Linked DNA regions of Homo sapiens: all the other regions are linked to region 3. Evidence: fine-mapped expression QTL. A gene starts in region 3. Each other region holds a variant in brackets. All regions are shown on one strand. Distances are from middle to middle. Region 1 overlaps SYTL5 (synaptotagmin like 5). Region 2 overlaps SYTL5 (synaptotagmin like 5). Region 3 holds the start of SYTL5 (synaptotagmin like 5).

The links. PIP is the estimated chance that this variant, and not a neighbour inherited with it, causes the effect.
Region 1: its variant is the best candidate, but not a certain one, in a credible set for the expression of SYTL5 in caudate (GTEx, PIP 0.80).
Region 2: its variant is the best candidate, but not a certain one, in a credible set for the expression of SYTL5 in adrenal gland (GTEx, PIP 0.81).

What each region holds. Positions count from the first base shown.
Region 1 is chrX:38,035,555-38,046,142 of GRCh38, forward strand. All of the region lies in intron 2 of SYTL5 (synaptotagmin like 5), which reads left to right. Among named protein-coding and RNA genes, the nearest start is that of MIR548AJ2, 17 kb to the left of the region's middle. The variant A/T (reference allele first, on the strand shown) is at 5,570.
Region 2 is chrX:38,071,605-38,082,192 of GRCh38, forward strand. It overlaps SYTL5 (synaptotagmin like 5), which reads left to right. Exons shown (of 17, transcript NM_138780.3): 4 at 443-558; 5 at 1,986-2,094; 6 at 4,963-5,097. Among named protein-coding and RNA genes, the nearest start is that of MIR548AJ2, 53 kb to the left of the region's middle. The variant G/C (reference allele first, on the strand shown) is at 5,844.
Region 3 is chrX:38,001,943-38,012,530 of GRCh38, forward strand. SYTL5 (synaptotagmin like 5) reads left to right here and starts at 4,611. Exons shown (of 17, transcript NM_138780.3): 1 at 4,611-4,726.

The sequences.
Region 1 (10,588 bases), 34 kb after region 3:
CACTCCAGCCTGGGCGGCAGAGCCAGACTCCGTCTCAAAAAAAAAAAAAAAATCATTTCTGGCCGGGCGTGGTGGCTCACGCCTGTAATCCCAGCACTTTGGGAGGCAGAGGTGGGCGGATCAGGAGGTGGGGAGATTGAGACCATCCTAGCCAACATGATGAAACCCCGTCTCTACTAAAAATACAAAAATTAGCAGGGCGTGGTGGTGCACGCCTGTAGTCCCAGCTACTCGGGAGGCTGAGGCAGGAGAATCACTTGAACCCCAGAGGTGGAGGTTGCAGTAAGCCAAGATCACGCCACTGCACTCAAGCCTGGTGACAGAGTGAGACTCTGTCTCAAAAAAAATTATTTCTATAGGAATAAACAATTTAATAACCAGATGCCCAGAGACAATGAAGTACAATGAATAGGACTTTGTTCTGAATATTTGTTTCTGTCATTATCAATAACTTGTATTAATAATTGTTGGCTGGGCGCAGTGGCTCACGTCTGTAATCCCAGCACTTTGGGAGGCTGAGGAGGGTGGACCACCTGAGGTCAGGAGTTTGAGACCAGCCTGGCCAACATGGCGAAACCCCGTCTCTACTAAAAATACAAAAATTAGCGGGTCACAGTGGTGTGCGCCTGTAATCCCAGCTACTCGGGAGGCTGAGGCAGGAGAATCGCTTGAACCCAGGAGGCGGAGCTTGCAGTGAGCCAAGATCGTGCCATTGCACTCCAGCCTGGGTGACAGAGCCAGACTCCATCTCAAAAAATAATAATAATAACAATTATTATTATTATACTCTTTCTTCCTTTTTCTCATTCCATTTTTCTTCCCTAGTCTTCTTTCCTTATTCCCTATAAGTAAATTCGGTTAAATTGGGTGTAATATACAACAGAGTATCAAGAATAAAGTCATTGGTTTCCTGGCTCTTCAAACTTTTTTGAGAATAGCATAAGAAAGGCTGTTTATAAATCCAAGAGATACTTTTACAGAAAAGAGATTTTCTAAAGCTACGTCTTGTCTCCTTGTTCCATCTGCATTAACTGCATTAGATGTGTTGTCTCATTTTGTTCTGAGTTCTTGTAATATGACTCAGGCTTCACCACTCTTAACAGCTTGGTGTATTCAGAAGTCATTCCAAAGTGGGTGGCATGATGTTGAGGGTGTATGCTGTTGAATCACACAGCCAGAGTTCAAATCTTACTTTCGGCATGAAATATCTGTATCATTTTAGACAAGATGTTTCCATGGATAAATCTAGTTTCCCCATTTGACAACAGAAATAATATCAGTGACATCATAAGATTGTTCTAAGGATTAAATAAGCTAATATTACAAACAGCTTAGAGCAATGCCAGCATACAGTAAGCACTCAAAAATTGTTGGTTATAATCATTAGCCCTATAGTTGGTTTGTGGTGCCCTTGATTTGCTAGTTGCAGTAGACACTATCAGTGCTCTACTCAGATCCCCTGGAGTCCCTCTCACCTCCTAGTTTTCATGCACTTTATTCTAAGGACTTGAAGTACAAAATTACCTTCGGGTGACTGGAGTTTCCCATAGGATTAAAGAGACACAAGTGCCAGGTAAACTTGAGTGTTAACTGGGTAGCCCAAAGCCAATGGTTGACGGGTACAGAAATCCATTGCCTCAAGGCAGAACAGACTCTGCAATGCAACTTAAGCTCCAGAGCTTCCCGTGGGATGATGCTGAGGCTGGACTTCACCTAAAAATCACACCCTTGCTTAGCCCCTCTCCCTGCCTTCTCCTGCCTCCCTTACTCCCTTATAGATTTCTCTTGAGAGCACTACATAAGTCGCTTGCACACAAATCTACATAGCAGAATTCGCTTCTAGAAAACCCAGTCTGAGACACTATGAAGTTTGTATTACCAAAGCTATTACTATTTAGTAAAGTTCGTTTCAGGGGAAATATAATAAGTCTGCAAGGTGAGCATTAAAATAAAGAATTTTGGTTCATTTGATTTACAAGCTATGATCTTCCCAACAATTTTTATCACAGTCATTGTGGTTTACATACTGGTAAAGAAAAAAGTCCAAGCTAAAGAAAGAAGCCCAAGATTAAGCATCTTGGTCAGATAATATAACTTTCTGTTGGCTTTTCTCCCTTTATCTCCTCTGAATAGCCATTTTATTATGAATTTAAGTACAACCTAAATCAGTTCAGGGTACCTTAACTTTAGCGCAGTGGGTCTGCATGGCAATTAAATTCTGCAAACATTTTTCTGATAGATAGATAGATAGATAGATAGATAGATAGATAGATAGATAGATAAAAATATTTATTATAAAGAATTGGCTCATATGATTATGGAGGCTGAGAAGTTCAGACCTAGGAGAGATGATGGTATAATTTGAATCTGAGTCCAAAGGCTGAGAACCGGGAGAGCTGATGCAATAAGTTCCAATCCATGTCTGGCAGTCAGTAGCAAGGGAAAACTGATGTCCCAGCCTGAAGACAGGGAGAGAAAATTCATTCTTACTCAGCTTTTTACTCTATTCAGACCTTCAGCGGGTTAGACGAGGTACATCCATATTGGGGAGGGCAACCTACTTTACTCAGTCTACTAATTCAAATATTAATCTCATACAGAAACACCCTCACAGAAACATCCAGAAATAATGTTTAACAAAATATCTGGGCTCCCAGTGGTCCAGTTAAGTTGATACAAATAATTAACTGTCTCAGGAATTTATATAAAGCTGGCTATAGCCCCCGTTCCCACACTTTTGTGAATTGTATAGCTCATCCTGACTCTGTACCCCCGCTTCTGTTGAACTCTCCTCTCTCCTTGCATCTCACCACTTATGGCTATTCCTTACTCTTTTCTTTGCCAGGCCAGAGAACTTAGTCCTTTTTCCTTGATATCCTCCAAAACCATCAATACAAGAAATTTAGATGGGTAACAGATTTTATTACAACAGTAAACTTTGGTGCTAGCTATTACAATAGTTTTCATCATGCTATAGAGGTACAAATGGATATTTTGGGGGGAGTCTAAAGGAAGAAGTAATTAATTACAAGTAAGATAGAAACTGAAGCAATGGTTTCACAGAAAAGGTGAACGTTTGTGCTTGCCTTTGAAATGTGAAAAGGACTTTTCACATTGGCAAATATAGGTCAACTATGTTTTGGCTGTTTACCATGAGCCACAAAGCCACCTTCAGACTGTACTAATCAGTTTCAGAAGGAAATGGAAACCAAAATTTTTTTTAGACTGAAAAAGATTACAAAGAATAAACTTATCTGAAAAGTTAGTAAAGTGGAGTTTGGGAGGCAGTGGATTTATTGTTCGTTTGTGTGTTTATTTGTTTGAATAGCTTGTCCTTTGAGATAAAAATGTAGAAGACGGAGAAAGCGTAAAAATTGTACTGAATCAATATTTTAGGCCTGACACCCAAATGTGCTTCACAGTCCACATACCCACTAAAGTGTGGCATTGATTAAGGTGGGACTGGTCTTTGGGGACTCGTAAAGGTGCTCCATACCCAGAAGGCACATGGCAAGCCTGATAATTACCTCCAGGCATAAATCATCAGCTGGGGAATAGGCATCTGTCTACTACCATTGCATTTTAAGTTCATTCAAGAGGCTGAAATATATTTGTATACATTCTTCTCCTTCAGACTAAGCAGGAAGGAGTGGTAGGAGATAGCGAGACACAGGTTTTCACTGTTAGAGGGTAAGAATATTTTTAAGGTTCTCTATGGAGAGCAAGTCACTCAAATTTATTGACGGCTTTACTGCAATGAAGAAAAAGCAGAAATGTTGCAAATAAAATTGAGCTATCAACAATTATTGCAAATGGATAAAAATACTGACAGTTTCGAAGCACAAAATGGAAATCATTGTTGATTATTTTGATTTTGTACCTTAGATTGCTTTTCATTTACTTCAAAAGAACTCAGACTAACATGTACGTGGGTCATAATATCTACTCCAAAAAAATCTCATTAACAAATTTTTACTCTACTTGATCTCTCACACCTAAAAACAAATACTGTTAAATATCTACTTTGTGGTATTGACTTGTACTTAAAAATCCTCAACTTATTAGTGAATATTCATTTCAGCAGTATATTGTGAGCTTTATTCTCACTAAGGGTACATCATTTCCATTTGACCACCATACATGAAAACATATCTGCACATGTTTTCTTTGGCACCTAATCTTGGGCTTGCCTCAGTGGTAAACTCTATTGGTTGCCTTACAACATAACATTTCTCCTTTCTTTCTATCCAAATCAAAGTTTTATTCAGCTCTAGCAGTGAATTTTTTAAACAAATTTTTTCTCAAAAAAAATTTTTTTTATTTTTTAAAAAATGTTTTAGGCCAGGCGTGGTGGCTCACGCCTGTAATCCCAGCACTTTGGGAGACCAAGGCGGGCAGATCATGAGGTCAGGAGATCGAGACCATCCTGGCTAACACGGTAAAACCCCATCCCTACTAAAAATACAAAAAATTACCCGGGCGTGGTGGCATGCGCCTGTAGTCCCAGCTACTGGGAGGCTGAGGCAGGAGAATCGCTTGAACCTGGGAGGTGGAGGTTGCAGTGAGCCGAGGTCGCACCACTGCACTCCAACCTGGGCGACAGAGCGAGACTCCATCTCAAAAAAAAAAAAAAGTTTTAAATATTTGTGGGTACATAGTAGGTGTATATATTTATGGGATACATGAGATGTTTTGATACAGGCATGCCATGTGAAACAAACACATCATGGAGAATGGGGTATCCATCTCCTCAAGTGTTTATCCCTTGAGTTACAAATAATCCAAATAAATTCTTTACTTTAAAATATATTATTAAGTTATTATTGACTATAGTCACCACACTGTGCTATCAAATAGTAGGTCTTATTCATACTTTCTATTTTTTTAACTCATTAACCATCCCCCCCCCGACCCGAGCCCCACACTACCCTTTCCAGCCTCTGGCAACCATCCTTCTACTATCTATGTCCAGGAGTTCAATTGATTTGATTTTTAAATCCCACAAATAAGTGAGAACATGCGAAGTTTGTCTTTCTGTACCAGGCTTATTTCACTTAACATAGTGATCTCCAGACCATCCATGTTGTTGCAAATGACTGGATTACACTCTTTTTTATGGCTGAATAGTACACCATTGTGTATATGTACCACGTTTTGTTTATCCATTCATCTGTTGATGGCTGCTTCCAAATCTTGGCTATTGTGAACAGTGCTGCAACAAGCATAGGAGTGCAGATATCTCTTCAATATACTGGCTTCCTTTTTTTGGGTATATACCTAGGAGTGGGATTGCTGGATCATATGGTAGATCAATTTGTAGTTTCTTGAGGAACTGCCAAACTGTTCTCTATAGTGGTTGTACTAATTTACATTTTCACCAACAGTGTATGAAAGTTCCTTTTCCTCTGCATCCTCGCCAGCAAATGTATTTTGGTTTCTTGTGTAAAGCTGGCTCAGTTGAAATGCGCCACTAAATAAGCCAGAACTTAATATCTCCAAGAGACCACAGACCCCAGCCTAGTAACTCCCATTCACCTTATGGTTTTCTCTTAATGTGACTGATTTTGTC[A/T]TTTCAGTGCTAGGAGAAGAGAAGGAAGGAGAAACAGGAGGGGAGCGTGCATTCAAATTGCTTATTTGGAATCCTGCAGATAAGTTCAATATTTGGTTCAAATGGATTTGAAGTGATTTCAAGAATTATACATTCAGCCTGGAAGTCAGGGAGTCTAAGCGCCAAGCAATAATACCCTTTTAATACACTATAAATGTTTGATCATTTGTTTGTTTTTCCAAATCTTATCACTCTACCACTAAGAGCAAAATTAGTTTGACCTTCTCAAAAGCCTAAAGACTCATTGTCCCCATAAAACACCAGGAGAACTGTTGGACTGGACTTCTAGTTTGGTAAACACTTTGGTTTAATCCTAATAGAATTGCCACAAAGCTTCTTAACGGATTAACAGAAACTCCCAGCATGAACATACTGGCTCCCTAATGGAACTCAAATGCTTAATGAGTCACAGAAAAATGAACAAAAATATTCAGATCTGCCTTAAACCTTGGACGTTTTCCTAGCAAAGACCTTACCAATTTCAATATATAATTACATTTAGGGAAACTAACTTTAATTTTGATTCTAGAGCATTTTTCTCCGAGGAAGCGTTACTTGTAAGGTGCACCATAGGCACAGGGCCACAAATACCTGATATTCAGAGACATGTTAAACATTGGATTGTCCAAATAAATAAACTTGCCAGATCATTTTTAATATTTTTTTACATTTTATTTTATTGACACATAGTAGATGTACATATTTTCAGGGTACATGTTATAATTTCATACATTTATATAATTTGTAAAGATCAAATCAGTGTAGTTGTGATATCCATCACCTTAAGTATTTATCTTTTCCTTATGCTAGAAACATTCTAATTATTCTCTTCTAGCTATTTCAGACCATTTTCTTGGGGGTTTGAAATAATAGATCACCATAGTCATAAGTAAGATTGTTACCTGAGACTATATCTATTATCTGTATCTACATATGTCTCTATATAGAGATCTATATTATTTCAAATTATTAACGTGTTTATATTATATTCATATAAGATATATATTATTTCAAATACCTAGACTATATATAGAAATATATATAGAGATAGGTTTTCTCTCTACATATATAAGTGGAGAGAGTCTATATAAAGAGAGACTCAGTATAGGCTGGGGATTGGTTTCAGGGCCCGGGTGTATACCAAAAGCCACACATACTCAAGGCTAAAGTTGGCCTTGTGGAACTTGTGTATAGGGAGAGTTGGCCCACTGTAAATGTGGGTTTCATATTCCACAAATACTGTGTTTTCAATCTTCATTTGGTTGCAAATGCAGAACTCAAGGTTATGGAGATCCAACTTTGTTTATTTTTTAAAAATCCACATATAGATGAACCTGGGCAGTTCAAACCCATGTTGTTCAAGGATCCTCTGTATATTTTTTACTCTTCCCCATATTCCCATTTTACTACCCTTTCCCTTCCTTGTGTATTGTCTCTAGCCAGAATTGGTATAGAGGTCATGTCTCTAGGCAGCAGGGGTTAGTTGGCACTCACATCCCAAGAAACTACCATTCCCTTTCAATGCAAATTGCAGAAACAGAACAATAAAGCCCATGTAATCCAGAACCTGGCTGAATGTTGGGGCTGGAAGGGGGAGTAAAGAAGACCCATCCCCTCAAAGGTAAGTCAGCTCATAAGGGAATATCTAATATCAACTATATCCTTGGAGAAATAGGTATTTTATTCCTAAGAAAATGATATAAGTGAAAACTTCACTAATAAAAATGTCACCACTAATATTTTAGATTTCAGGCAAGTGACCATTTTATATCAACAGTAATCTTATAAGAATGTTCCTATGTTAATAGAAGTTATGGTTTAACCAATTTAAATTTATAATAAGATTAGGCTAACATGCATTTCATAATTTTTATAATTGTTCTTTTATTGCAGAGTAATTAAGCATAATGAAAATATTTAATGCAAAGAAATTAATAAAATTCTTACACAGCAAGCAATTTTTTAAAGTTTTTAATCTCAGTATTGTGCTAGGATCTATAAAGGGCATCAATGTCTGCAACTTTTAAAATACCATAAACCTCAATCCACTTAAACATTTAATATCTTCTGATACATATTTTCATTATAGAATCAATGGGCTTATTACAGAAAATTACATAACCATATAATATGAACATTAAAGTCTCACATAGAATTCCACTTTCCAGAGGTGAATAGTCTCCATTTGTGTTGAATTTCCTTCCTGTCACTTTTATGTGTATATATATACACATATATATATGCAATTTTCATATAGTTGGAAATTGCATGAAATTTACATATACATACTGTATAAAATATCATAAACCTCAATCTGCTTAAACATTTAATATTGTCTGGTACATATTTTCATTAATAGAATCAATGGGCTTATTATAGAAAATTAGATAACCATATAATATGAACATTAAAGTCTCACATAGAATTCCACTTCCCAGAGGTAAATAGTCTCCATTTGTGTTGAATTTCCCTCCTGTAACTTTTATGTATGTATGTATGTATATATATATATATATATATATATATATACATATATATATACATATTTTCATATAGCTGGAAATTGCATGAAATTTACATATACATACTATATATGTAAATTTTATTCTTTATTTTTGCTTTGCATTATTTCATGAACATTTTTCATGTCATTAAAAATTATTTGTAAACATTTTTATTGGCTGGATAAGATTTCATAACATAAGATTTTTCCATATAACATGAATGTGCAACGTGTTTCTTAACTATTTATTCTTATTTCCATGAACATTCTCATTCTTAAATCCTCTTATATTGTGATTCATATTTTGAATAATATTTCCTTAATTTTAAAAACCGGCAATCTGAGAAAATTGATTCAATTAAGACCATGCATCTTGTGAATCAGATTGTTTATTGTTTATCACAAATCTCACCTTCCTTTCGTAGAATCTGAAAGTTTGTAATTAACTGCCAGTGATGGTTTTCAGTGAAGCATTTAAGGAAAGAACAACACATAAAGGAAACATTTATATTCATATTCAACAAATTTCAAAGAAATGGTGACAACATTTCTTGTATCATGTACTGATACTGACAACTAGGGAAACTGCTCGAAATGTGTTTTGCAATAACCTTTATCTGTGAAAATGTGAATCCCCATAAGTATCACCTAAAAAGGTAAAATGGGAAAAAGTAAGTACTGATAACTGCCTTTGCTGAACATATAACCCCTTCCCCACCACATTTAAAATAATTTAGTTTGCACAAATTCAATTTAGAGTCATTCTAGAAATAAACTTCAGTTATACATTTATAAAAACTAAAATGGAAACCCTCTAGTATGTGTCCATATTCAGCAGCAGAATTGGTTTTAAAGAATTTTTCATGAGCAACATGTTCTCTCTAAAGTATCAGTTTTTTTGTATGAATGCCCAATTTTCTTCCATCAAGTCAATTCTATCATTGCATTGTGATACCAAATATTTTAAGAAGCCCAGCATTTTATCTTGGTTGTTTTTTAAAGAAATGCAGCTTTCCTACTTCTTGCTGTACTGATTCTATCTCCATCTCTGTTTTTTTCTGAGTAATTTATCATATTGATAACAAGACTTTCTGATGTTTTTAATACTCGAGCAAGGTATTCTTTGGGTTTCAGATTAGCAAAACACATTCTTGTTTCTTAATGGGCCAGGAAATTGAGACAATAGTTATTTTAAGATAGTTCCATGTGGGAGACTTGGTTTGCTAATTACGTATGAGATAAATTTCTGCTATGATAAGACTATAGTGAATAAACAGCAAGGTATCAAATTGCAGTGATTCCTAACTCCTTTAGAGTTGTAACGAGCTGTTTTTGTCATATTATTTATAAGATCCCTGTCTTAGGTTGGATTCCCCCAGAGGTAGACCTTGAACTCATGATTTGTGTGCAAGTGATTTATTAAAGAGAAACCATAAACTACTAGTAGGGAAAGCAACACAGGAAAGGAGAAGAATCTAAGCAAGGGTGAGAAGTCAGGCAAAATTTGGCAGAGGTCACCATCATCATGACTTTACAGAGACAGATAATGTTTGCTGTTTTGTCTCCATTGTCCTTTTTAAAAAGAATTCAGAATGAATGCTTGAGTCATTGTCCCTTTGCATATATGAGCACATTTAATGTTTCTGGAAAATCTGTAATAAGTCATTGATTCTCTTAGGTTATAAGGGATTGGTTAAGTTCTTCCTCGTATTTCTGTGGTTTTAATTATTTTCCCTAAAACTGTTACTTTTCAGCATTATTGCTCCGTTGTTTTCAGTATTTTTTGGATTTGGGTTTTTTGTTTTGTTTTGTTTTGTTTTTTGTCAATTGCCTGTCAGTTGACATGGTTTTGTGAGATTTTCCGGTATATTCCTATGAGCCAAGCTTTTTAATATCAGGAAGTTTCTTCTGCAGATATGAAGACTTCACAATGCCCTCTTTCCTTGAGACTATTTGTAAACATGAAATTGGCACAAGTCACAAGACTTCTTTATCTAAACAAGTGTTCTTTTACTCCTTCTTCTTGTTACTTTCTCTTAAGCAGCTTTTTATCCAGGCATAACTTTTTCCCAGTTCTCAGAGAGTTGTGATTCTTTTTAATAGCCTTTGATTTGAAAACTAATCAAAAGTTATACAAAATGTATTAAGATAGAGTCATGCTTGTTGAAGAATGACTCTCTTGGGGAATATTTGTCATGAGAGACTTTGTGATAAGATCCAGTTTGGGCAGATGCCATATGTTGAAAGAAGCTGGGCGGGCGGAAGAAACCCTCCATGTTTACTGAGGCTTAACTTTGAGTGTGCTCAGCATGGCTTTGCACAGCTAGGAAAGAAACAACAGTCATGAATAAATACGGAGTCCTTTCTGAGCAAAAATATTTTAATATATTGAGAGCCAGTGGGAGGATACTGGTGTGTGGGAAGAGTGCAGATTTTGGAATGTAAAATTCAGGGTCTGAATCCTGACCTCCTTATTT
Region 2 (10,588 bases), 70 kb after region 3:
TTTTCATTCCAAACCTTTACTTGATCCCTATTGCTTGCATTGAAGATCACTTATCCACTAATGCAGTGGTTAAGAACTTGAGCCCCAGGTCAGACTTATTGGGATGGGATCCTGGCTCTGCTACTTACCAGCTGTGTGATATGAGGCACATTATTTTATTGCTCTAAGTCCCAATTTCCTCATCTATAACATTAGGATAATAGTGTTTACATAAGGTTGCTATGTGGATAAAAATATATGAAGTATGAACCGTAATTAGCAAGTACCTAGCAGATAGTAAACATTCAATTAATACTGGCTATTATTATCACCATAAAATACTCCAGAGATTGAGATAAACTTTATAAATAATTTGCTGTTTTCAGTTTATTAGGGATTTTTGAGAGTTAATTATGTGGCTAAATAATTGAATTTCAATGCTCTTCCCTTTTCCCTTGAGTAGGCAGCTAAGGATTATAACTGGTGAGTGGTTTTTTGAAGAAAAGGCAAAACGTTTCAAGCAAGTCAATGTTCTCGGCACTGATGTTGTCCGACAGTCCATTTTAAGAAGAAGTCCAGGTAATTAAAGCAATTATGTGGTTTCACAACTGTTTTCATCTCCATTTGGCTAACTAAATAACTTCTCTATGTTATGTAGTTAATCAGCATAAATGAGTTTCTTGAATCCCTTAGGGCATTTCACAACTTGGTAGCATGAAATCTAGATACGTAATTCATACAAGACAAGAAGAAGTCAGTAGAAAACAAAATTCACAATGATTTTCCATATATCTCACCCACTAAGATTTTCAAAGAAACCATTTGTCTCCATCATAGACAGTTCTCTTTCTGAATGCATCCAATATTTTACTAAACACTTAAAGTAACATAAAACAGATGAATTAAATGATTCACATTGTGAAAGCAATCCTTGATTTTTCAACAATATTTATTTCCGATTTCCTTTCAATGTTACTTTTTAAATCCAGTGGTTCTCAATCAAAGATTGATAATATGTACCTTGTCTCCCTCCCTCAAAATGGGAGCATTTGGAAAGGCAAGGGGGGCATTTCTGGTTGTCACAGTGACTGGTGAGTCAATGGCATTTGGTGGGAAGGAGCCAGAGATGCTAAATGGCTTGAAATGCATAGTCTTACTGAATGAATACTGGCACCAAATGAAAATAACACTTTACCTTGACAGTGCCTTTTGGTGCATTCAAATTACAATTTAGTTAATTAAAGATGGAGTAAACCTTGTGATTGGGAGCATGTTTCTCGTATATGGTGTAGTAAAAGCGGAAGAAACATCTTTCAGCCTGTTTCTAGGCTTATCTCATCTTTCATCCAGAGGAGACAAGTGCCCTTGTATTTAAGTCTGGCACATATGGCGAGAAGGCTTGGAACTGATTCCAGTGGTACTTCTGGGTGTGGCACTAGCAAGGAAAGGCTTTTCCACATAGGTCACACAGATCCGATACTACAGAGAGATGGTGTGGAGTACAGTTAGAATTAGGCAATCAGCCATGGCCTCTTCTTCCACTCAAACCCCAGTACCTTCCAGAATGTAGGCAGTTCCTCAAGTCACAATATATTTGCACAGATGCCCACCCTCCCAGGAAGTGTGGCTTATATGCCCAGAAATTAGGACATCATTTCTACAACCTCATGCTAGAACTCAGTCTCCAGGGATTTGGAGATCTTAGGAGACCATGTTCCCCTGCTCTAAAAATATCAACAGAAGGCTGATGCAGTCATCCCTAGGAAGGTTATCTCAGTAAACCTCCCACAGATGAGTTCAGGATCTTTGTCTTCAGTTAACTCTAGAACACTCAACAAATTAGAACTAACTGTGTGACAGAAAAACTTGGGATGGGAATGGCATTGCCAATTATTATAGACTTCCTTGCCCTGAGCTAATCTGGGAAAGTGAAAGCAGAATATAAATTTGCTCTCATTTCTGGCCATTTTGTATGTAAATTTCTCTTCTGATTGTTTGTTAATGAGGAGCTGAAGAAGTACAGAGCCAAGAGCAAACCCGCCAGGATGCAGAAAAGTCAGACACTTCACCTGTTGCTGGGAAGAAGGCCAGCCATGATGGGCCCAAGAGAAAGGGGTAAGACATGGTCTTTCTGAGGGAATTTTTGATCTTTATTCCAGACACCTCTGAAATGAAGACTCCTTAATTTTTCAAGTTTGATGTCACTTCAATGACCCAGAGGAGGTCAGAGACTCAAACAAAGTAACACTTTCTTATCATTCTCCTCAGGAAATGCAGTTTTAATAATTTTCAATAAGTAAATAAAAGTCCTGTCTGACCTAAGCACAGAAGAGTTTTCCTTTCATTTGACATATCCAGTCTTGCACTATATGGTTCCCATTACTTATAAGTAGAAAGTTTCATGCCAGGATCAGTCTATAAAGAGGTGACAACAATTTCTGTTGTACAATGTCAATACTCCTCCCCTCCAACCTGTGTGCTGATATATAATTTTATCCAAAATAAAGATTTATTAATTGAGCTTAAAGCACCATATTCCCTATTTAAAATTCAGGCTTCCTTAAGAAAAAAAGTCACATTTGGCCACCACAGTAACTTAGTTCAGTAAATGAATACAGAATATGGATGCCAAGTACTGAGAATAGGAATGGGAGGTACATAAGGGAGCAAGAAGTTTCTTTCAAGGGAGAAAAGTGGATCCCAAAATATAGGCTATAAGGACCAAAAGGAAACTGCATTTTTCAGTTTTTGTTTCTCATGCAGCTATTGGCCAGTTTTTGTGACTGAAGTAGTGAGAGTTCTAATGTGCACCAAGTCATTTTATGGTCCTTTCTGTTTTTTTATTATTATTGAGATGGGGTCTCATTATGTTGCCTGAGCTGGCCTTGAACTCCTGGGCTCAAGCAATCCTCTTGCCTTGGCCTCCCAAGTAGCTGGTACTACAAGTTGTATGCCACCATGCCTGCCTAACTTTATGGTCCTTTTCAGACAGCATTGCTTCATTCTCTCAGTAGAATGCAAAGTGAGAGGGCATTAGTGTTAGAAGATTTATCTGGCTGTACAAAATGTCTAGGGTTCTTTTAGAATCTTGGGCTGTCAGTAGGAATACAATCTAAATGTCATCTAACTCAAGCACTCATGACAAACCATGTTTTCATTGATGAGCAGAGATGAGTTGGAAAGATAGCCTAGAGTATCCTGTATATCCTATCCTATGTATTGATCCTTCCTACCATCTTGAGTTCATTTATCACTCTTTGGGTCACCCACAATGCTTTGTGCCTTTGCACCACCAATCATATTGCACTCTGACACCCCCTCAACACACACACACACACACACACACACACATGCACACACTTAATTGTAAGCTTCTTTAGTGGTAGACCAGTGGTTTCTTTGCTTCTGTGTTGCAGTATCTAGCATGGCACCTGACTCATCAAAAACAATCAGTGGCTTGATTGAATAAGTAACTCAGAGCCCACAAATGCCTCTAGGAGTTGTCATTTGCAGACCCCAGCTCAGGCATCATAGAGTAGGTTACAGAATAGTGGACTTGGAGATAGGAGACAGTAACTAACTCACCATCACAATCAATTATGCAAATTCTGAATCATTGAAACCATTGTAGCACTGGGCTGAGCCTTAGATTCTGATTGTTCTCAGTCATCAAGGAATATAACATCTATTTGGGGAGAAAAGGTACACACCTGAAAAGTTACTAAGTATAAAAGAATTGCAGGAAAATTTAAGATGGCAATGTGAGCTTCCTAAAAGCCTTTCTAAAACAGAGGAGGGTGTTCACCACAAGAGATATCCTAAGGTTATAAATTACTGAGTACATATAAATAAGCAGGTGGACAATAAGTGCCAGTTGAGTATAGGAGTCATCCAGAAAGACATCAAATTGTACATGAGATTTGAGGAGGAGATAAATGGGGTTCAGGATCACAAAACGGAGGAAGAGTGACTCCAGGCAGAGGAGATACCTTAAGTAGAGGACATGCATGAGGTGGTTCTCAGAGCAGCATACCTTGACATTATATTAAGTGCTATTCTCACCAAAGAAAAAATGTAATTTTCCAGTAGATTAAAGCTTCAGATGCTTTGACAATGACACTATTCCAGGAGTCTTTGAAACAGAGACAACATGGCAGATTCTATTAAGATTGTGCCAGTACCTTTGGAATCCATGTTTTCCTCTAGAAAACTGTAGAATGTAAATGAAGTGTATCTCCCAATGCCATTACAAAAAGGAATATAGCTTTGATTTTCTTATTCAAGTACATTTGGAAACACCCATGTTTTGGGCACATGGTATCCTGGATCAGGACTTTAAGTTCCTAAAAGGCTGTTTCTGCTTAAACCCCAAATAATTTAGTGAAATTGGAAGGTAATCAGATTTTATCCAACATGAGGCACAAGAATAAATGTCATGGAAGATAATAAAGATGAGTTTAGTCATTCGTTCCACAAGAGTTGGTTGGATTCCAGTATAAGCCAGGCATCATTCTAGGCTCTGGAAATCTGTCAAGGAACAAGAAAGGCAGAGTCACTGCTCTCATGGAGCTGCAGTCTAATAAGCAGCTACCTCAGTTTGTCCAAGAGGATCATCCTGGCTTCCCTCTCTGAGCAAAGGGAGTTCAAACTCTCTATTCTCACTATTCCTGCAAACAGGCCCAACTCAGGGAATGCATCTTCTTTCTCAGGTGACAGTGCTGAGTTCTCAGAATAGGCAGTCTTTTGCTTAGTAGTGACCTACCAGCAAGTGGTACGGTCTTGAGAGAACGGCGTAACCTTCCCCATTATCACCCTTGATACTGTATTGCAGAGGCACTGGGAACTCTCCAGAACCTCTCAGCCCTAAGGCTGCTTTATTGAAGAATCCTTTATTATTAAAAGTACTAGAAATTGTATTCTTGAAATGATATTTTTAAATGCTTTCTTTCTTATCTAATTTTAAATACATATATATAATTTCAGATTTCTTCTTAGCAAGTTCAGATCGGCAACCAGAGGAGAAATCATAACTCCCAAAACTGACACTGGGCGGAGCTATAGCTTGGACTTAGACGGTCAACATTTTCGGAGTTTAAAATCACCTCCTGGTTCAGACAGGTAAGAGTCATACAGATTGAGCAATGATGTAGCCTGAGGTTAAGGTTGATATATTCCCATTCATAGGGGGATTTTAGGTATCTGTGAAATATTACCACTTGGAGAACTCCTAACACATAATGTGAAAATTCAGGAAGATATTTTTTAGTTGATATGGAAAGCACGTACCCTACTTCTAGAATTACAGCTATTGGAATTGCCTATGTCACCTGCAGGGATGAAACTTTATATTCTGGCACTTGGGGCTGCAGTTCAAATGGAAATGTACAGGGCAAGTAAATGTTTTTCATTGACTTCTTGAGCTTTTTCTATTTAAGCTCCTGAAAAAAAGAAACCTCTGAGTGTCAAATACATTCCTTGCAGCTTTTAAAAAATTATTAATAATTTTAAATTTGAATTTCCTCAGAGACTTTTTCATAAATTTCACTTCCTTTCTAGTTCCACCTCTTCTAACTGGAGGAGATTATCAGTGGAGCCAATTGAGAATGTCCTATCCACAGATCTATCACTTGTCAAGAAAAATAATGAGAAACACAAAGGATAGCCCAGAGCATAGTCATTTTATATCAGGCGTGATTTTCTGTATCCTATTGGAGCATAGTCAAGACTTATTTTCATGATTAGTGTATTATCAAAGCTAGCAATGAGAAAAAAATATCCACCTTCATATTTCACTGGTTTGTCCAATTGTTAACTCCCTTTCGTTTGCTTGTGTCTGGGGTAATTTTGCAAGCCAGATAGTACAA[G/C]TAGCAGATTTTCTTTTCTCCTTAGGTTAGGAAGAATGCAAGCAGAATTGCATTCTTCCCTGTAATCCATTTTAGAATGCAGACCAAAAAATTTCCTTAGAGGGGACACTATTTTGACTATTGGGTTATTTTTTCATGGTGACTCTCCATAGCTGTTTCTTTTGTCCCTATAACAGTCCTGCATGCAAGCGTTACTTTATGTAAAACCATACAGAAAAAAAAAATTACAAGGAAGCGTAAAGTCATTTATCACCCATTATCAAAATATTAATACTGTATTCAGTATTTCCCAAACTTTCAAGAATGCTGATATATTCCCTTTTATGATTACAAACTGTTAAGCTATGGTTGCCTTTATCCTTGAAATAGTTTCATTTGTCTTCCATTGAGGTAGCTTCATGCTGTGTCCCACAAAACTTTCTATAAACATCTCATTTTGGCTGGGCACAGTGGCTCACATCTATAATCCCAATGCTTTAGAAGGCTAAGGCAGGAAGATTGCTTGAGCCCAGGAATTTGAGGTTACAGTGAGCTATGATCATGCCACTGCACTCCAGCATGGGTGACTGAGCAAGACCTTGTCTCAAAAAAAAATGAATAAATAAATCTCATTTTTGTTTTTCATAGTTGGACTCCTGACTCTGAGATAGTAGTGGTCAAAATTATTTAGAGACAGTAAGCAACTAATTTGGTGTTCTTTTTGCTCAGCCTCCTGGGACTCCATGGATGAGCCACCTTGGCTAACACTTAAGGCTAGCATTTAAGAAAGGCAATATATACAAAAAGAGGAAAGACAATGTTCCTTGTTTTTTGTTTTTGTTTTTTTTTTTTGAGATGGAGTCTCGCTCTGTCTCCCGGGCTGGAGTGCAGTGGTGCAATCTCGGCTCACTGCAACCTCAGCCTCCTGGGTTCACACCATTCTCCTGCCTCAGCCTCCCGAGTAGCTGGAACTACAGGTGCCCACCACCACGCCCAGCTAATTTTTTGTATTTTTAGTAGAGACGGAGTTTCACCGTGTTAGCCAGGACAGTCTTGATCTCCTGACCTCATGATCCACCCGCCTCGGCCTCCCAAAGTGCTGGGATTACAGGCGTGAGCCACCGCACCCGGCCAATGTTCCTTGTTAAAGAAAAAAAAAAGGCTGCCAGCCTAACAAAATTAGATTGTGCTATTTTAAGTTATATGTCTTACAGTTACTCAACAAGAATAATAGGGAGCATGGTCTCCAGTATCAGTGCTTATACCGTAATGGACTCTATCTGCCTCAGTTTACTCTTTGTGTATTATCTACTACTAGGCATAAATAACCAAAACTATAAAGCCATATGGACATGCATCACCAAGTACTGGTATATTGACCCAGGAGCTTCTTGTTCTTTTTGTAAGCTGAAAGAAAGTCCCTAAGTAGACTTTATCTTAAATTGTAAATACCTGAAATGGCTTACACATAGTCAGAAGTAGCCAGGAGTGCTTTGGCTTAAGCATGTTAAGAACAATATTTTGCCACTAAGAAAGTGAGTAAAGATGCTCAGGAGATCAATAGAGCAAAATGTCCTTTCCCTTGAACGTGCATTTATCACAGTGATGACTCATTAATGGACTGCCACAGTGAGATGAGTTCCATTATTTCAAAATGAGTCCTTAGAAAATTGAGGCAGGAGGTAGCCCATCTTTTCTTAACTTCCATCATCTGAAGAGACTGTAAGATCCCAGTCTCTTTGGTCTATTGCCTGACCCAGCTTACTAATATTTCCCCTTTTTCCCTTACAATGCATATTTTTTCATGGATCATTGGTATTTTCATGGAGCAGCTGGGCTTCGGCATTCCTTTTTAAGGCTCACATCATATAAGAGTGTAAATGATGTTTTATCAGATGTGCAGTTGGCTTTCTTTTCAGTAGTTTCAAAGCAAGGGAAAGTATGAATAGATTAAAGAAGCCCTAGCAGCCTCTCAGAAGAGCTTGTCAAATGGATGTTCACCGGTTGCTAGGGACTTGACACATGAGACAAAGAATATTTTTAGGAAAATAAATGTAAGCTGTAGTTAATAAACAATATTATTCAAGGTAGTGATTTCTAATCCCTACAAAGTTGTGATGAGCTGTCACTGTGGTATGATTTACAAGATCTCTAACTTAAGTCATGCTCTCCCAGAAACAGACCCCTAGACAAGGATTTATAAGCAAGTGATTTATTATTAATCAAGTGATTCCAAGAGAAACCAGGAAGGGAGTAGGAGAGACAGAATAGAGAAGAGGAAGAAGCTAAACAATGGTGCTAGCTCCAGTGTGGTCTGAGGACTCAGCCTGATCCTGTAGGAGACTCTAGAGCATAAACTATATCCCTGAGCTTTTTCCACATTGAGGAGCTGGACCATTGCACTCCTATACCAGTCAGTCATTGACCATGGCCTCCCTTGAATAGAGTCTCTAGACTTAGCAAGTGAAGATACAGGATGCCCAGGTATGTATAGTTGAGACTAACAACTGTTTTTTAGTATAAGTATGTTTCATGCAATATTTGGGACATCCTTATACTTAAAATTAATTTTTTTATCTGAAATTCAAGTTTAACTGCGAGTTCTGTATTTTATCTGACAACTCTTCTATAGGGGTGAGGGGGAGACAAACTCCAGGGCATTTCTAGGCCTCCAGCTCCAGGGCTAAAGGGAAGGTCTCTGAAGGTGGCAGGTGACATCCATTAGCAGAAAAGAACTCAGGATCTAGGGAGGAGCATGCACAGCTGGTAAAAGGAATCTGAGGGAGATGCCAACAATGTTATCTTTAAAAACAGAGTAAAACTAGAACTTTGAACCTAAAATGCATTTTGTTCAGTAAAAATGGAGGAAGAATGATGCTGTTTCTCAGTAGCGTTTCTATCATGTCATTGGAGAATATGGCAATATCTACATGGAATGTGAACAGACGGTGGGACCTTGTTTGGTCTCGTAACCAACTAGGTTCTCATCTTTCTGCCCTCCCACTCCTCCACTCCACGCACACCAGTTTCATCCAGTTATTCCTAATTGCTCTCCAGTGGATCTGGGACTGATGGTCACAGTCTCTGTGAAGCTTCACAAGCTGCTTTGCTTTGGCTGTGATCCACCAAAAGCAGAGACCACACCATTCAAACCAGCCCTTAGCTAGTTCTTGTCCTCATTTCAAGCACTGCCCCTCTCTTTTTCTCTCTCTGTCCAGGAAATATGGCACTTTGGATATTATCATGAATTTAAAGAATCATCCATTCCTCATATCTATTATTTTAGTAAAGTGAGTTTATTAAACCCATTCTATCACTAAATGATGCCTTCTTTTTCATCAGAAATAAAATTATTCTCCTGTCCTGAATGTAATTTTCATTGACATCTTTGCAATTAAGGTGCCAATTAGGTGGCAGCCTCTTACTAGAAATTTGAATATAGCAAGGTGGGAGTGTTTAACTCTGAGTCAGGACCACATCCACAAAGTCAACAATGGTCTGTTTTGCGTATTAGATAAAACATTACATAGCTAGTTGCTAATGCTATTAGCAAACTCCATTCCTTACCAGGCTTAAAAAAATGTTCAAATGTATAGCATATCTCTGAAAGTATGTACATTTATTCTATAATGATCGTTCGGTGACTCAACAGGATAAAGGCTGTGAGCATTGTCCTCCAAAGGAAAATTACTTTCACCTCTTTCCTGTGCCTTTCCCTCCTTTGTCACTGCTAATTCCTTTTTTTCCATTTTAATCTCCTTTGGGTAAGCTCAGCCCTCCTTAGGAGGAGCGAGGGGTGGGCAATCAAAGCCACAAGCTGTAGCAAATGCTAACAGCCTAAAGCAATTCGCAAAACCATGGTGGCCTGAGAAAAGTGAATTTTAATTCCAGGGAGCAACTGACACATGATAAAACAGGAGAGGAAACATGAATTCACCAGAGTATTTTGTTATGCTGTGACCTTATCAGTGGGAGATACACAGTCTGAAGTTGCAAAAAAAAAAGAACTTTAGCTAGAAACTTCTATTTAGAACTCAAAGCCATCCTTTTCTAAACTCATCCTTTGCCCACCATATGCACAAATATGCACTTGATTTGGGCTCCTTTGGAAGACAATCCTGAAATAAGGATTCAAGAGTAAGTAATATGTTCAGGATGTGGTCTAAGGAAACAGAGATAGGAGAGTGGGGAAATGAGCCAGGGAAGGGAAGGCAGGCAAAAAGGATATGTCATTAAGCCAGTTGTTATTGTGGGCAACTAGAGCTCAATCTCACTGGCCAATTCTAGAAAACCGTGCTGAATGTACCTCAGAGTTATCCAGTTAAGAGATAGGGAATCTGGGGTATTTTTACAGCAGCTCTTTGTTCAAAATTTATTGAGGGCTGCTTCTAGGGCACTAACTCTCTGGCACTTCCGACTTGCCCTGTTCACAGGGGCTCCATGCTCCCATGAGTCAAAAAACTCCTCAGGCAGGGAGTTCTGGGTATTCCCAGTAACCAAGATTCTGTGGGTAGAGGTAAGTGCTGAAGGCAAATGGGCAGGGACACTGAGAGTCTGCTACAACCTCCCTCCCAAACTGCTCTCAGACCTCCTTCAAAGACGCAGTTTGTCAGACCACTGTTCAGCCCCTGATTTCTGTTTACTTTATATTATGTGTGACTTTCCTCATTATAATGTCAATAATGTGAGAAGGTATGGAGGCTCAGTAATTCAGCCACACCCATGCTTCATTCCTGTGATCAAATGATTGTAAGCCTGAAGCCTCC
Region 3 (10,588 bases):
CCATGCTGGTGTGCTGCACCCATTAACTCTTCATTTAACATTAGGTATATCTCCTAATGCTATCCCTCCCCACTCCCCCCACCCCACAACAGTCCCCAGAGTGTGATGTTCCCCTTCCTGTGTCCATGTGTTCTCATTGTTCAATTCCCACCTATGAGTGAGAACATGTGGTGTTTGGTTTTTTGTCCTTGCAATAGTTTGCTGAGAATGATGGTTTCCAGCTTCATCCATGTCCCTACAAAGGACATCAACTCATTGGTTTTTATGGCTGCATAGTATTCCATGGTGTATATGTGCCACATTTTCTTAATCCAGTCTAACATTGTTGGACAGTTGGGTTGGTTCCAAGTCTTTGCTATTGTGAATAGTGCTGCAATAAACATACGTGTGCATGTGTCTTTATAGCAGCATGATTTATAATCCTTTGGGTATATATCCAGTAATGGGATGGCTGGGTCAAATGGTATTTCTACTCTAGATCCCTGAGGAATCGCCACACTGACTTCCACAATGGTTGAACTAGTTAACAGTCCCACCAACAGTGTAAAAGTGTTCCTATTTCTCCACATCCTCTCCAGCACCTGTTGTTTCCTGACTTTTGGATGATCGCCATTCTAACTGGTGTGAGATGGTATCTCATTGTGGTTTTGATTTGCATTTCTGTGATGGCCAGTGATGATGAGCATTTTTTCATCTGTCTTTTGGCTGCATAAATGTCTTCTTTTGAGACGTGTCTGTTCATATCCTTTGCCCACTTTTTGATGGGGTTGTTTGTCTTTTTTCTTGTAAATTTGTTTGAGTTCATTGTAGATTCTGGATATTAGCCCTTTGTCAGATGAGTAGATTGCAAAAATTTTCTCCCATTCTGTAGGTTGCCTGTTCACTCTGATGGTAGTTTTCTTTTGCTGTGCAGAAACTCTTTAGTTTAATGAGATCCCATTTGTCAATTTTGTCTTTTGTTGCCATTGCTTTTGGTGTTTTAGACATGAAGTCCTTGCCCATGCCTATGTCCTGAATGGTATTGCCTAGTTTTTCTTCTAGGGTTTTTATGGTTTTAGGTCTAACATTTAAGTCTTTAATCCATCTTGAATTAATTTTTGTATAAGGTGCAAGGAAGGGATCCAGTTTCAGCTTTCTACATATGGCTAGCCAGTTTTCCCAGCACCATTTATCAAATAGGGAATCCTTTCCCCATTGCTTGTTTTTCTCAGGTTTGTCAAAGATCAGATAGTTGTAGATATGCGGTATTATTTCTGAGGGCTCTGTTCTGTTCCATTGGTCTATATGTCTGTTTTGGTACCAGTACCATGCTGTTTTGGTTACTGTAGCCTTGTAGTATAGTTTGAAGTCAGGTAGCGTGATACCTCCAGTGTTGTTCTTTTGGCTTAGGATTGACTTGGCAATCTCCTTAAGCTGATAGGCAACTTCAGCAAAGTCTCAGGATACAAAATCAATGTACAAAAATCACAAGCATTTTTATACACCAATAACAGACAAACAGAGAGCCAAATCCTGAGTGAACTCCCATTCACAATTGCTTCAAAGAGAATAAAATACCTAGGAATCCAACTTACAAGGGACGTGAAGGACCTCTTCAAGGAGAACTACAAACCACTGCTCAATGAAATAAAAGAGGATACAAACAAATGGAAGAACATTCCATGCTCATGGGTAGGAAGAATATATATCGTGAAAATGTCCATATTGCCCAAGGTAATTTATAGATTCAATGCCATCCCCATCAAGCTACCAATGACTTTCTTCACAGAATTGGAAAAAACTACTTTAAGTTCATATTTTGAGTTTTTAAAGGAACCTTCAAACTGTTCTCTAGAGTGGTTGTACTAATTTGTATTCACACCAACAGTGTACAAGTGTTCCCTTTTCTCCAAATCCTCACCAGCATTTGTTATTGCTTCTCTTTTGGGTATAAGCCATTTTAACTGGAGTAAGATGACATCTCATTGTAGTTTTGATTTGCATTTCTCTGATGATCACTGATATTTAGCACCTTTTCATATGCCTTTTTGCCATTTGTATGTCTTCTTTTGAGAAATGTCTATTGAGATCCCCTGCCAGTTTTTAAATCAGATCATTATATTTTTCCCTATAGAGTTATTCGAGCTCCTTATATATTCTGGTTATTAATCCCTTGTCAGATTGGTAGTTTGCAAATATTTTCTCCTGCTCTGTAGGTTGGCTCTTCACTTTGTTGATTGTTTCCTTGCCATGCAGGAGCTTCTTAACTTGATGTGATCCCATTTGTCACTGTTTGTTTTGGTTGCCTGTGCTTGTGGGGTATTACTCAATAAATCCTTGCCCAGTCAAATGTGCTAGAGAGGTTTCCCAATGTTTTGTTTTTGTTGTTTCATAGTTTGAGGTCTTAGATTTAAATAGTACAATCGCATGGAGAACCGTTTGTAGGTTCCTCAAAAAATTCAAAATAGAGCTACCATATGATCCAGCAATCCCACTCCTGAGTATATACCCAAAAGAAAGGAAATCAGTATATTCAAGAGATATCTGCACTCCCATGTTTACTGCAGCACTATTTACAATAGACAAAATTTGGAAGCAATATAAATGTCCATCAACAGATGAATGGATAAAGAAACTGTGGTACATATACACAATAGAGTGCTACCATCTATAAAGAAGAATGAGATTCTGTCGTTTGCAACAACATGGATGGAACTGAAGGTCATTATGTTAAGTCAAATAAGCCAGACACAGAAAAAAAATTTTGCATATTCTCACTTACTTGTGGGAGCTGAAAATGAAAATAATTGAACTCATGGAGATAGAGAGTAGAAATATGGTTACCAGAGGCTGGGAAGGGTAGTGAGGTGCTGGGGGGAAGTAGGGAGGATTAATGGGTACAAAAATAGAAAGAATGAATAAGACATAGTATTTCTTAGTACAACAGGGTGACTATAGTAAAAATAATAATTTAATTGTGCATTTTAAAATAATGAAGACAGTATGATTGTATTGTTTGTAACACAAAGGATAATTGCTTGAGGCTATGGATACCCCATTTACCCTGATGTGATCTTTATATATTGCAAGCCTGTATCAAAATATCTCTGTAACTCATAAATATATACACCTACTATTTTTCCATAAAAATTACAAATAAAAAATCCTAAAACTCAGCCCTTACAAGATCTGCAGGGGAGACAGAATTTGTAGGTTGATCTCCCAAATTCATCAGGCTTGGAAAGGACCTTAGACTTTCTGCATAACTACATTAGCAAAACCAAACCAATTCTATGGAAATGCCAATATTAATAGAACAAATATTAATACTCCTCAGAGGGAGATAGCAGAGTCTTTACACTATATGATCCCCATTGTCCAATATGCAATAAAAAAATTCAACATGCAAAGAAACAAGAAAATATCACCTATTGTCATAAAATCAGTAGAAACAGACCCAAAAATGTCCAGTTGTTAAACTTCATAGAAAAAGACTAAATCAATTATTATGTATTCAAAGAACAAACAGAAAATAGGTTCAAAGAATGAAAGGAAAATATGATCTTTATAAATGTACAGATAGTGAATTTCAGCAGAGAAATGGAAACTATAAAAATAACCACATGGAAATTTTAGAGCTTAAAAAATTATAGTAACTGAAATTAATAACACACTAGATGGGCTCACATTAGTTTGGAGATGGCTAGCATCAAATGAGCTTGAAGACAGATCAAAAGTAATCATCCAATCTGAAAAAAATGGAACAAAACATGTATCTCTAAACTTTTTAAAGGTGTTGTATTGACTTCTTTTGTATGAGTTTTTTAACATAAGAAAGTAATAACTCTCTTGGTACTTCAAGCTAGACTCACGTTTTCGATTCTCCAGGACACCACCTTTGGGGTTCCCCACTGTAGCTAAAAGGGACCTGGCTATGGTAACATAAATGGGTAATCACCTTGGCAGAAGTGATCTTAACAAAAATTTCACTTACTTCAACTAAAGATTCAGTACCATACAAGCACTGAGAAAACCTCACTCATTCTCTAATGTTCAGCTGAGCAATCACATACTGTTACACATTTGTCTTCTAAAAGTCATACATACATAGCACAGTGCTATGATTAGATACCTGGACTATGGTTATGGAGTGCCTGGATTTAACTTTTGACTCCAGTACTTACTAACTGGGTGACTGTGGGCAGACTACTTAGTTTGTTCATTTGTAATATGGGGATAATAATATTATACACCTAACACATTTGGAGAATTATTGGAGAGGATATATGTAAAGCACTTACAACAGTGCCTGGCACATATGTGTTCATTGTTATCACGTTTCTCCCAGGTTTTTTAAGAATAGAGATTTTCAGGGGTAGAAGAATATTAAAAGAGTGAATCACCTTTAAAACACTGGTGTAAAAAATACCTCATGTCAAAAAATGTTTAAAATGTGCTTTAGATGAAACCTGTTACCTTTCCCCTGCTGATCAACAGAGACATTCCTTTTTGAAAGCTCAGCTTTAGAGATACTGCCTTCTTCTTGAAATAGCTGTCTGCAACAGATAAACATTACTCTGTGCTACTGGGTGTGTTCAATGTGTAAATAGATTGTGGGAATATGAGAGGCTGGTTTTTCAAGTTCCTGCTCCAAGTAGTTCACAAGGGTCAAGTAGTCCAGCATTCTACAGTTTGTGTGTTTGAGAGAAAAATAAGCCCATAAAAACATTCTAACCTTCAGATTAAGGTAAGACTAATGCGTTTAGGGATCTCCAGTGTGATATCTGATTTCTTAATTTCTGTATTTTGTGTGTGGTAGGGGAGTAGTGGGATTTGCTGGTCAGGAAGAAAACAGCTCCTTCCACCATTTGATATTGTATTTTACAGTAAAAAAGGGAGAAATATGTACAGAAGGGACATTTTGGCCATTGGTAGCTATGAGTTTAATGGATTGAGGAGAGAAATATAAGTATCTTTTTGTTATTAACACTTGATTCTATCTATGAAGTGAAGCATTGCACTAGGTTCTACTGAAGAGTGAGTGCCTCCAGGAACAAATATGCATTCTAGTGACATAAAAAAATCAAATTCACAGCAGAAGTGTTGCATCATTTTGCTATAAATCTCTCACACCTCTCTATATAAACCTCTCACATCTCTATATAACATAGATTGTCCTTTTGCTCTGAATTTCTTTCATTTATTAGAAAATTTAGATGTTTCATTTGGAATTATTTAATTGTTTTTACATTCAGTTCCATTTTTGATATGGACAAATATCCAGTATGGATATAAATTCAGTAGAAGGATTAATAAAGTCTGAAAAACCTGGAATAATTTCAACATGAATATGATACTGTAACAGCTTACAGAAATGCGATATTAACTGTGAACATTAATATACTCTGAAAAGATGCATCAGGGTTTAAAAAATTTCTCCTTAATGTAGATTGTTTTAATTACCAATACTGTCTTCCTCATTTAAATGAAAAACGTAATTTTACAACTATTAATATATAACTTCTCTTTGCTCCAAGTATATGTGTATGCCTGGAGAAAAGCATATGCCTGGAGAAAACAGGAGTTATATATTTATAGCATTCAAAATAGTATAAAATATTGTTTACATGTAATAATGCATTTAGAAGTACTACTTCAGTAGTAGCCTCCTTAAAAAGTATTTTAAACACAGGAATTAAGTATATAATTTTTTCATTTTGTAATAAGTTGTTTATATGTTATTTGGACAACAGCTTACACACAAAAGTGTTACAATTCATACCCTAGGTCTTAAATGCATGAAGCCATTTGTTTGGACTCTAGTGAAATCCTTAAATTGGTCCTTGCATCCCTCAGTATATATATGTACATACCCACATATACATGCATATTTACATGTGGGCAACTAATAACTGAGAAAATGTCTTACTGCTCTTTTAGTTGTTGAATCATGCTTTTTCTATGTATTTATGATTTCCTGAAATTCTTTGCTATTTTAAGTTTGGGTATTAGCTATGTTATCCTTCTATTTATTCAGATTTGTTAAAGTCTTCTGATAGGTTTAGTGAATAAAATTATTGAGCTTCTACCTCTTTTCTTTTGGAGGCCCATTTAGTATTTTTGTTGAAATTACTTCCTTATTATTATTTAGTATGTTAAGGGAAGGAAAAGGAAATGTAGCTTTAATATGTAAAATGAGCAGTTCGTTTTACTTAAGCTCTATTATATGATGATGTATCTTATGACTATTTTGCCATCCTGCGTAAGCACTTAGCTAATCATCTTTAATACATTCTACTTAAAATCTACTTGTAAATATGCTTTTGTACATTCATATCTTACTTGTCTGTGGTCTCTCATCCTCTTTCTCTCTCACCCCTCTATATACATTCACACATTTTCCATGATTTCACAAAACTTCTCTCCAACCTCGTTCCATTCCTGGTTATCTCTTTCTGTGGGGAGTATCATCATTTCCTTTGACCTCTGTTTCTCTACATCTTCCATCTTGCTTAGCCCATGGACTTTTGATTTTACTGAAGACAGCAAAAAAGCAGATGGTGCTTCTGTTACTTGCAGAGTTAGCAACCGCTGTGGTTACCTTAGGTTCTGAAAGATTATCTAAAATAGGGAGGAGCTCCTAGAGGAACAAAATATAATAAACATGTAGTGTACTGGGATAAAAAATTCACTTGATCTGGTCTCTCTCTCCTTTTAACAAAAACATTTCTCTAAGAAGTGATTAATAAAACATACCCTACTGCCTCACTTTCTCTTTTAAAATCTTTCTTTCAAATTCCCCTATGACATAAAATCAATCTTCATCACTTTATTGACACTGTACTTCCAAGGGTCACCTGTAGTGCTGCTAGGAAATTCAAGTACATTCATTTATTTATGTATTCATTCATCCATTCAATAAATATTTATTTAGTGACAGCTATGCATCAGGCATTGCTGAGCACTGAAGTTACAGTAGGGAACACTTAAGTCTGCCTTTATATATCTCCAGTCTAGTTAGGAAGGGTGTTAACTCACCCAAATAATTCATTACAAGTGTGATAAGGGCTATAAGGAATACTTTTCCAAATTCTCATTTTATTCATCCCCTTGGCTCTATGTGACACACATGATCAATTCCTACTTCTTAAATTTTCTCTTTCCTTCTTGTCCATGACTCTATACTATTTATTCAACTGCTTTTCTACCACTTCCCTTCTTGTCTATTTTTCCTTTTCTCTTCCTTAAGTTTGGGTTTCCCTCAAAGGTTTAGCATTTATTTAGCCTATAACCTATTACGTTTTGCCTTTCTCTATAACTTCTTATCAACCCTTAGTTTTAAATATCACCTCTAAGTGGATACCTCCAAGACTTCCATTTCCACATCTTATCTTTTCCATCTGCTATACATTTTCCCACTTGTATGTCCAAGGGTCACTCGACATTCATCATGATTGTAGCCAAACTCACAGCTTTTATGTCAAACCACTTCCCCTTTCATTTCATTTGTTTCTGTGAATGGCATTAATGATCTCTTGGTTTCTCACATTTGAAATCTTGGAGTCAATTTTGCTTCTAACTTTTCCTTTGCTCTCAATATCCAAACCACTACCAAGTCCATTCATTTCTTTAATTATAATGTATCTAGAAGCCATCCTCTCTCATCTCCCTTTTCTGTTATTTTTTTCTTTTATTCTCTATTTTCTCATCCTTTTTTCCCTCAGTCTAAGAGCTACCTACAATTCAAGGTTTTGGTCAGGCCCCATCTCCATCAGAAAGTCCACACCTCATGGATATCTTCTTTTTCTAAGCCCCAGAATCATTGGGGTAGTGAAAAGAACATAGCCAAAGAGCCAGGTTTAAGTTTTGATTCTACCATTCACTGCCCCCTGTGCACTCTCTGTGAACCACAGTTTCCTCAGACTCATTCTATCTCATATAGTGGCCACAGGAACAAATATAGTCATGGAGAGGAAATCATTTTGAACTATGAAGAACTATATAGATATTAAAGTAAGATTTGTTGCTGGAAGAATAACTCAGTAGCAGAGACCAAAACCCCAGGTCTTAACTATTGAAATCATATTGTGCAGGGGTTGAGAGTGTTGACTCTGCAGTCAGATGACCTGAGTTTGAATCTCAGCTCTGCTACTTACCAGCTGCATGAAATTGAGAAAACTTAGTTAGCTTTCCTGTTGCTGAGTTTCCTCACTGTCAATTGGGGATAACAATAGTTTCTACTGATAAGAGTGTTGTAGGATTAGAACGTTTAGTAAATGTAAAATACTTAAAATAGTGCCTAGCTCATAGTAAGTGCTCTGCAAATGTGGAAGAGGTGGTAGGGGCCTATGAGGCTAAGTGTGGTTACGAGGTGAAAGCCAGGTATTAGAACTGAGCCACCAGATGGGGATTAGGTACAGCAAGGATGCAAGCACAGAGCTACAGACTGGACACATGTACCTAGATGAATCCCTCATGATTCAGATAAAAAAAAGAATGATCTTGCCATTTGGGGCAGAACTGAGCAAATGATGGAGGTATGAACGTTCTGAGCGACCATTCGGGGCACAAAAATGGGGATAACAGTCTTTCAGACACATTTTCTTTTTGTTAAAGAAGAACAAATGTTAGATTGCCCTTTTGTGTTGTGAAATATGTCAGTATATCATGGAATCAAAATGTCAGTATCCAAATAAATGTCCAAATGTTGAGAAAGCTGACTCAACTGTCCTCTATATTCTAGAAATCCGTCTCTTTAACAGTCATATGCTTATTGCATTTCAGAGGACAAGGGCCCTTAGAAATGTCATTCCTCACAATTTATAGGATTATTGCCCAAAGTGTGTATTTTTACTAATACACTTGGAGATTAGTTTGTTTGATTGTTTCATGTCAGAAAGAAAAATAATAATAATACTTAGAATATTCTAAGGGTTGTTCTAAGTGCCTTAAATTTTTTAACTCATTTAATCTTCACAAGAACCTCATGAGATGAACATCATCATCATCAACATCATCGCCACTACCATTTACATAAGAATAAACTGAGGATCATAGAGGTTAATTGGTAATTGGACCAGATTTCAAATCCAAGCAGCCCAGCACCAGAGGCAATTTTCTCAAGCACTGAGTGCTATCATATCAGCAACTCTGTGTTTTAGAATCTGGTTAAAAGGGCATGCTCTGGAGTCCTAGACTGCTGTTACATGTTGCATCTCCAGTTTTCCTTGACAAGTGGTAATAAATGTTTGATATTTTTCATAATTGATAAAAATTACTTACATAAGATTTATACTAAGTAATCCAATGTCCAGTAATGCTGTGCAAGAAGAGTCTGGTTTTTCTCATCCATTATTCTGTATTTGAGCATCAAACAAAGGCCTCAAATACTGATGCTCTCTGTTTCCTAGAGAGTATGTTATACTGCTGGCCGGGCGCGGTGGCTCACGCCTGTAATCCCAGCACTTTGGGAGGCCGAGGCGGGTGGATCACGAGGTCAGGAGATCGAGACCATCCTGGCTAACATGGTGAAACCCCGTCTCTACTAAAAAAAATACAAAAAATTAGCCGGGCGCGGTGGCTGCCGCCTATAGTCTCAGCTACTCGGGAGACTGAGGCAGGAGAATGGCGTGAACCCAGGAGGCGGAGTTTGCAGTGAGCCAAGATCGCGCCACTGCACTCCAGCCTGGGCAAAAGAGCGAGACTCCGTCTCAAAAAAAAAAAAAAGAGAGTATATTATATTGTTTTGCCCTGTACTTAACTGATGTTGTACCCGTGTACTTAACTGCTGCTGCTGCCCGTGGGGATATTTTCTAGGGTATCTGTGAGTTTCCATCTTTGTCTTTGCTAACTATTTCAAAAGTTCAGGCTCAATTTTTGGAGTTGCTATGTTTGTTTTCTATTTCCTATTTTAACTACTTCTTGTTCATTTAAATGTTCTCTCACCGTAGTTTAGTGGGATTTTTTTTTTTTACTTTTCTCTAAGCGTTAGCTACAAAAATAACTTAATAGGCTTTTAGTTCATTTTCTTCTTCACTGAATAAGAATATTAAAATCAAATTTACCTTCACCGAACACTTAATAACTTTTTTCATTTCCAAGAAGGCCCAGTGCCATTTGTAACTCTTGTTAAAGTTTAATTTAGCAGTTTCCAATTTTTGTAACAGTCGACTTATCCAGGCTAATTTGATTTAATATTTCTAACAGAATGCCAGGAAACACTCTGTTCCTACAATAAGAACATGTCTGATTCATTTAAATGAATAAGAACACGTCTGGTTCATGTAAATAGACTTCAGCGGCATTTTTGTTTTGGTGTTGTGCAGTCAAAAAATATTTCCGAGAGAATATCAGGACTTGGAAAGAAACCAAGAAAATGAATACAAAACAACTCTAAGATACATATCATTCTAAAGCAAGTAAAATCCTCAAGACCAAATAATATAATTTAAACAACCATTTAACATTGATAATGTTTACTAAGAATGGAAGTGGTAGACTTTACCAGAAAATATAGTTGAGTTGGGGTGGGACGTGGGGGTGTGCAATAGAGAAACCAAACTTGGAAAGAAGCCATCAGATAATGATGTTCCAGGTTCAAATATAAACT